Linked DNA regions of Homo sapiens. The protein of the gene in region 2 interacts with the protein of the main gene of each other region in a biochemical or structural test. Each region holds a gene or a part of one and is shown on either strand. Other genes may lie near its edges.

Region 1 (3,814 bases), on a different chromosome or scaffold from region 2:
GAAACAGCCTACAAGGGCCTGGTCTGCTCTGTCTACCCATTCTCTACTGCCTTGTTTCTTTTAATATGAAGTGGCTTATGAATTTAATGCAAACACTTAAAATCAAATATACAAGGAATCAGGGTTTTCTCTACATGTAAAAGAGCGTCACTGAAGAACTTAGGTTGAATGATATCATAATCCAATTTCTGTATTAGACAAATCCCCCTGGATTTTTCCAGCATCCAGGTTGGAAAGCCTGGAAGCTGACTGCCTTCTAAGAAGGAGACCCAGCAACTTCAGCTACAGAGGAAGTTAGACCCTGAACGAGAAGAAGCAATTCAACGTTGTGGTAAAGACTCTGGGCTCTTGCGTCAGAGAGGTAAGAGATTCAACCCTGACTCTGAGCAACTCACCTCAGCCTCTCTGGGCCTTTATAAAGTAAGAATTCTAATCCATACCTATATTTTGAAAGGTCATTGTGACAATCCATGCAGAGAGCTTAATGCAGTGCCAGGCACTGTATGAGCTCAATAAATGTTAGATATTATTATAAATTGGTGGTATGGGACAGATGCAAGAAACACATCAAAGGTGAAGCTGACCAAACTCAGTGACCAACTATGGGTGAGACTGGGGCAGGCACTGAGGCAAAACTAAGGGTGAGTATTTCTAAGATTCACACTGACTTATCGATGCACTATGTATCCACTGAGATTAGGAAGCTGAGGTGGGGCGGTCTATCATGGAAACTTCCAGAAGAGGGAACTAGAGCCATTTACATCCTATCGCCTCTAACAGATACCCTAAACATTAACCTAAGATAAGGGACAAGAAGGAAAGAGTACATTTCTCTCCCAGGAGGAATTCTGAGAAAATAGCCTTAAATACAGACTGTTCTATGGAGAATAAACTGGCATTTGTGCACATGATTCAACCCATAACCTCAGGAGTTGTTACTAAAACTTGCAACTTTACATTTCAGTGTACACATAACAAATTGTATTTCAGTTTCTCATCAACTCATACACTTAAACAAATCATTTTAATCATAAGAAGTTCAAACTAACAAAACCTAAAACCTATTCAGGAATCAACTTACTTCTCATGGACACATATTGTACATTATCTTCTAAATTAATCCTTATTTTTGATGGCTGAAAAAAAAGATAAAAAATTTAACTTAGTGATTTTAAAACAACAATGCAAACAAATAGCATTTTACTCAATAGTATAAAGGTCTGGGAATATGAATATGATAATTACTGGCTGGGCAGAGGCTCACGCCTGTAATCCCAGCACTTTGGGAGGCCGAGGCAGGTGCATCACTGAGGTGAGGAGTTCGAGACCAGCCTGGCCAACATGGTGAAACCCCATCTCGACTAAAAATACAAAAATTAGCCGGGCGTGGTGGCAGGCACCTGTAGTCCCAGCTACTTGGGAGGCTGTGGCAAGAGAATCGCTTGAATCTAGGAGGTGGAGGTTGCAGTGAGCCAAGATCATGCCACTGCACTCCAGCCTGGGCAACACAGCAAGACTCCGTCTCAAAAAACAAAACAAAACAAAAAAACATGCACACACACACAAAATATACTGAATACATCAGGTACGATCATTACAACACTGTCCCTGACTTGGGAAAGCTTAGTAGAGATAGAAGATCTATCTCAACCAACACATGCTCACTCCTTGCTATTATTAAGTACACGTGGTTCCCCAAAATTTGCTCACAAGCTTTCATAGGCAGCTATGCATTCCCATTATAATTAATGTAAAAACAGCAGCATTTCTAACAATGGAAAACAATGCATGCTGTGGGTAACTAGAAACTTTTGCGTTAGATAAAAAGTTTCTTTTAAATTCCTGAAACAACCAGGAAATTAGTAGAAGCTCCATTATCAATGCTCACCATTTTACCAGCTATTTAGAGGCTCTGAAAGTTTGCATAAAACTGGTAGTAACATTTAGAAACTGTTTTTCTGTAAAAAATAAATAAAATGAAACCAAACCTTAAAATGAAAGCCTATGAACAGAAACTCCTAGTAACATCAATGTTAATGTGCCTCCAGACAGGCTGTCATCAGGTTTAGCTCTTATCTAAGAAAAAACTGGCCATAAAGCAAAACTGGGGCAAGTGAATTCATAGGTACTCTAAGAAGAGAATCAACAGCAGTACTAGGGATACACCCAGACAGGGAACTCACAGAAGGATTCATGGCGAAGGCAGCCCTCAGCTGAGCCTAGCCCAGCAAGCCAGATTTGCCTGAATAAACAACTGTGGGGAGAGAAGAAAAAAGACAGGATTGTGGTACCGGAAATGAACAAAGGTGTGAAGATGTATATGGCATGGCATGTTTCTGGGAACCCACTGAAGTGGCCAGTGTGTAAGTGACTTGACTTTGAAGCTGGGAGGGCATGCTGGCACCACATAAAACTAATGCTAAAGAGTTTGGACTTTATGTCATAACCAGTAGAGAATCACCAAAGGTTTCTGAACCAGACTAGGACATAATTAAGTAAATGGTTTAGAAATATAAGTATGGCAGCAATATGGCAAAAGGACTGGGAAATGAGGAAGCCTGAAGGCAAGGTGAGCAGTTAAGAAGCTCTTTGTTTATACTGGTGTTAACAATATCCTCGGCACAATGATTTCCTTATCATCTATGACAAGATGATAGCATCTATTAACAAATCACCCCAATATGGAATACTCCCATTGAGACAGAATCCCACTGTAAAATTAATTTAGTTGTTAGAATTGAACACGTAGACCTGCTAGGGCATGCAACACTGGAGCTGGGAATGCTGGCCTTGGGGGTAGGGACTAGGTCTGGCCAGCTCTCTCAAACAGTGCTGACAATGGTGACTTGCAAACATGGTATCCAACAGTGAAACTCTGAAGCAGTCCTATCAAAGTCAGACATTAGACAAGTGTGACCAACTGCCATTGCTATTTTTACATTTAACCCCTCTGCTAATAGTATGAGACGGGCCAGCTACGGTAGCAAGATTCTTGAATGGAAAAAAAAAAAATCCATCCTTATCACATTGATTTGAAACACACATAAACAAACATCCTAAATCCTTATATATAAGCTCAGAGGGGCCTTGCTGCAGAGGTTCCCGTTCTTAATTCAGAGTAGCAGGCCCAGGACTTACACACTCTACTTACTGGCTCCCAAAGAGGCTGCCTCGCTAGCTATGCATTCTAGGGTGTCTTCTCTGCTACACACCTCCCTACCCATCTCATCTAGACAGTGGATCACAGGTTGGTACAGAAATAACACCTCAGTTAGGCATAATATGAAAAAAGATGGCTTTGTTTTCCCCACTCTTTGCTATCAATGCAGTTCCATTACATATTGGCTATACTGATGTATGTGGGAAAACAGTCTCCAAGAGCATTCATTTGTTTTTTTTTCCTCTTCAAATACAAAAACACTCTATCTTGGAGGAATCACAACAGTACCATTGCCCCTCAGTGGCAGACATCATATACAGACATATAGATAGAAACATAAGTCCAGGCGCGGTGGCTCATGCCTGTAATCCCAGGACTTTGGGAGGCGGGGTGGGGGGAGGAGATCACAAGGTCAGGAGTTCAAGACCAGCCTGGCCAACATAGTGAAATCCCCGTCTCTACTAAAAATACAAAAAATTAGCTGGGGGTGGTGGTGGGCACCTGTAATAAAAGCTACTTGGGAGGCTGAGGCAGGAGAATCGCTTGAACCCGGGAGGCAGGGGTTGCAGTGAGCTGAGATCGTGCCATTGCACTCCAGCCCAGATGACGGTGCGAGACTCCGTCTCAAAAAAAAAAAAGATGATAAATAGGCAG
Region 2 (3,814 bases):
AGGCTGGAGTGCAATGGCGTGATCTCGGCTCACTGCAACCTCCGCCTCCCGGGTTCAAGCGATTCTCCTTCTCAGCCTCGAGAGTAGCTGGGATTACAGGCGCCCGCCACCACGCCCAGCTAATTTCTGTATGTTTAGTAGAGACAGGGTTTTGCCATGTTGGCCAGACTGGTCTCGAACTCCTGACCTCAGGTGATCCACCCGCCTTGGCCTCCGGGATTACAGGCATGAGCCACCGTGCCCAGCAGGGGCAAAACTTTTAATTAACCTATAATTTTCTTTTTCTTTTTTTTTTTTTTTTTTTTTGAGACAGAGTCTCGCTCTGTCGCCCAGGCTGGAGTGCAGTGGCGTGATCTCTGCTCACTGCAAGCTCCGCCTCCCGAGTTCACGCCATTCTCCTAACTCAGCCTCCCCAGTAGCTGGGACTACAGGCGCCCACCACCATGCCTGGCTAATTTTTTGTATTTTTAGTGGAGAAGGGGTTTCACCCTCTTAGCCAGGATGGTCTCAATCTCCTGACCTTGTGATCCACCTGCCTCGGCCTCCCAAAGTGCTGGGATTACAGGCGTGAGCCACTGCGCCCGGCCCAACCTATAATTTTCTAATTTTTAATATCCCTTCAGAGTTTCTCTAACCTCATCCTATGTAGAAAAAAAAAATCCTGAAATATGAAAAGACTCTTGTAAAAACAAGCACGTCATCATAGATTTCTTCAACACTTAAACCTGAGGGGGCTAAACTGACAACCTTCTTAACCTCAAATGTAAAGTTGTTTCTTTATGAGGACAAAAGAAGGCCTGAGTCGCTGAATCCTGTTCCCAGAACTCACTCCTTCAAGCACTGAAGGAAACAGCAGTTTGTTGCTGCATCAGGTTCACCTCTTCAGGCCTGAACTTCACCATCCAGGTCTGTAAAAGGACACCTGGTGGTAGACCCTTAGAGGAGCTCATTGGTCCCCTCTTGGCATTAGCAGAGCCTCGTGACAGCATCACTCAAACGCCTCCATGGTGGGACGCACACAGTTCTCTTGGTCCCCAGCTCTCAATTTCAGGATTTCCCCATAAACTCACAGGACACAAACAGGCACCACAGAACGGCTTTCACAACCAAGGCACGTGAATACCGGGCAGTGACGTCCACAGCCACGTTCTCTGCACAGGGAGCTGACCAGGTCCAAGTGCCCGCACAGCCCAAGAGCGAGTTCAGATGCCCTGCATCTTTACCAATGGCAGGAGGAGCTTGGAGAGGCGAACGGGACCCCAGAAACAGCCCCACACGGGCTACATCCCGAAGTCTTACAGCAAAAGCATCCCTGTAATGTTTGATGAATTCATCATCTGCCTGCCTTCCCACTTACAAACTTTCATGACACTGGACAATCGTGTGTGACGACAGGATGTTCCGAGGTAGGGAGGGGAGAGGCAGAGCTCTGCCTGATCCCACCAAGGGTCATGCTGCCTGGGCAGGCAGGAAACTTGGCCGCAGGCTGAGATGCCAGTGCCAAGCCACACTCCCTCACCCAAGGGCCCTGCCAGCCCAGCTCTAGAACAACTTGAGCCCCTGCAGCTGGACTGACTCGTGACAAGGGTCTGTCCGACTCTAAGGAGGTGCCAAAGCACCTTCCAAGACTGAATCTGAGGACGGTTCCGAGCACCACCGGTACCTGCAACGGGAGCCCACAGATCTGCGGGTCAGAGCCACCCTGTTCAGGAACCAGAGGACAGCCTCCCTAGGCCCTGAGGCGGAGGGCCTGAGATGTTTCGAGGACAGTTCAGAAACTCAAAGAGTCTGTACGGACCTCCCAGGGTGTCTCCAAACTTAAGACAGGACTGCACCTGAGGCTATCACAGACCGGGTGGGCCAGGCATGGAAACAGACAGTCCCCACAGCAAGGAAATCCTCCCCATATTGCCAGGAGCAGCCCATAATCTTGATCATAAATTTCTGTAAGTGATCCATGCTATGCCAGCGCTCCTGCTGGGCAAGACCAGGCCTCAGGTTCCCGGAGCCAGCCAGGTGGCCGTATGGCAGCTGACTCCTGTTCTCCACATTCTCCCACTTAACAGAGTATAAACACAAATATTCCATTTGAATTTACCATTTTAATTCAAATAAGTGCAATAAAATAAAAAGTCCCTGAGCAAGACAACAGAAACCTAATCCTTCTCACCATTTCTCCAGCTGGGCCCACTCAAGGACCATCAAAGGCAGCCACCTTCTAGGCTGTTTCCTCCTTCTGTGACCCTACATCACCCACTCCAGCACCGCCACTCACTCTCCACCCACAACACCATCACCACACTCACTCTCCTCCAGTCTACCACCATCACCACTCACTGTCCACCCACAACACTACCATCACTCACTCTCCACCCACAACACCATCACCACACTCACTCTACCAACTCCACCATCACCACTCACTCTCCACCTACACCACCATCACCACTCTCTCTCCCCCAGTCCTACCACCACTCACTCTCCATCCAATCTACCATCACCACTCACTGTCCCCGAGTCTACCACACTCACTCTCCGTCCAATCTACCATCACCACTCACTCTCCACCACTCCAGCACCACCACTCACTCTCCATCAAGTCCACCACCACTCACTCTCTAACTACTACACCATCACTGATCACTCTCCTCACTGCTCCACAGTCATTTCCTACCCACTCTGCAAACTTTTCAGAGTACCTCTCTCCTCCCTCGTGTGTAGCTCCTTGCCATATAGACCTTCACACCCACTGCCTGTCAACTGCTGTTCAAAGATGACACCCCCAGAGGACTGACCTCATCCTCTTCTTTCTGCCCCTCACTCACATGGAGCCATTTGTGGCCTTTTCCCACCCGCTTGTCTCCCTGTGCCCTACTTGAGGTTGGAAGCTCCGGAGTTGTTTTTCTCTTGTGTTCTCTCCAGAACCTTCCAGCCTCAGGTCTTGGATGTCCTTGTTTCTCCTCCTCCATGGTGACTACCAGGGCCTAGCTCCAGCTCCCTGCATCCTGTGGCCCCTCATGGCCCTCTACAGAGGCCCCAGGGCACTTAGAAGCTGGAGGCCTGCCTCCTTCAACCCAAGTGGCACAGCTTTCCCCCAGCATAAAGGCTTTTGACATACACCTGTGGTTTTACTGCAGTACCAGTGCTTTTAAAAACCTAACTGGTGGGCTGGGCACAGCGGCTCACGCCTGTAATCCCAGCACTTTGGGAGGCCGAGGTGGGTGGATCCCCTGAGGTCAGGAGTTCAAGACAAGCCTGGCCAACATGGTGAAACCCCGTGTCTACTAACAAAAAATTAGCTGGGTGTGGTGGCGCGCCTGTAATCCCAGCTATTTGGGAGGCTGAGGAGAAGAACTGCTTGAACCCAGGAGGCCAAGGTCACAGTGAGCTGAGGTCGCGCCATTGCACTCTAGCCTGGGCAACAAGCAAAACTCCGTCTCAAAAAACAAAAACAAAACACCTAACTGGTTATCGATGTTCCCTTCTGCAAAAGCTGCCAACATCATCTTTTCAAAACTCAAATGTCACACCTCTACTTAAAAGAGTTAGCTAGGCCGGGCGCGGTGGCTCACGCCTGTAAGGCGGGTGGATTGTTGAGGTCAGGAGCTCGAGCCCAGCCTGGGCAACATGGTGAAACCCCATCTCTACTAAAAATACAAAAAAATTTGCCAGGCATGGTGGCACATGCCTGTAATCCTAGCTTCTCGGGAGGCTGAGGCGAGAGGATTGCTTAAACCCAGGAGACAGAGGTTGCAGTGAGCCAAGATCGCGTCACTGCACTCCAGCTTGGGAGACAGAGTGAGACTCTGTCTCA

What was found.
Region 1: the proteins of TFDP1 (region 2) and E2F6 form a complex in vitro, tested with the Homo sapiens proteins (one study listed by BioGRID).

The regions. Positions count from the first base shown.
Region 1 is NC_000002.12:11,456,098-11,459,911, forward strand, and holds part of E2F6 (transcription factor E2F6), read right to left. Parts: intron 2,256-3,814; exon of another isoform or gene 2,196-2,255; coding exon of another isoform or gene 2,184-2,195; intron 1,137-2,183; coding exon 1,082-1,136; intron 1-1,081. UniProt on the Homo sapiens protein: Inhibitor of E2F-dependent transcription. Binds DNA cooperatively with DP proteins through the E2 recognition site, 5'-TTTC[CG]CGC-3'. Has a preference for the 5'-TTTCCCGC-3' E2F recognition site.
Region 2 is NC_000013.11:113,587,502-113,591,315, reverse strand, and holds part of TFDP1 (transcription factor Dp-1), read right to left. Parts: intron 1-3,814. UniProt on the Homo sapiens protein: Can stimulate E2F-dependent transcription.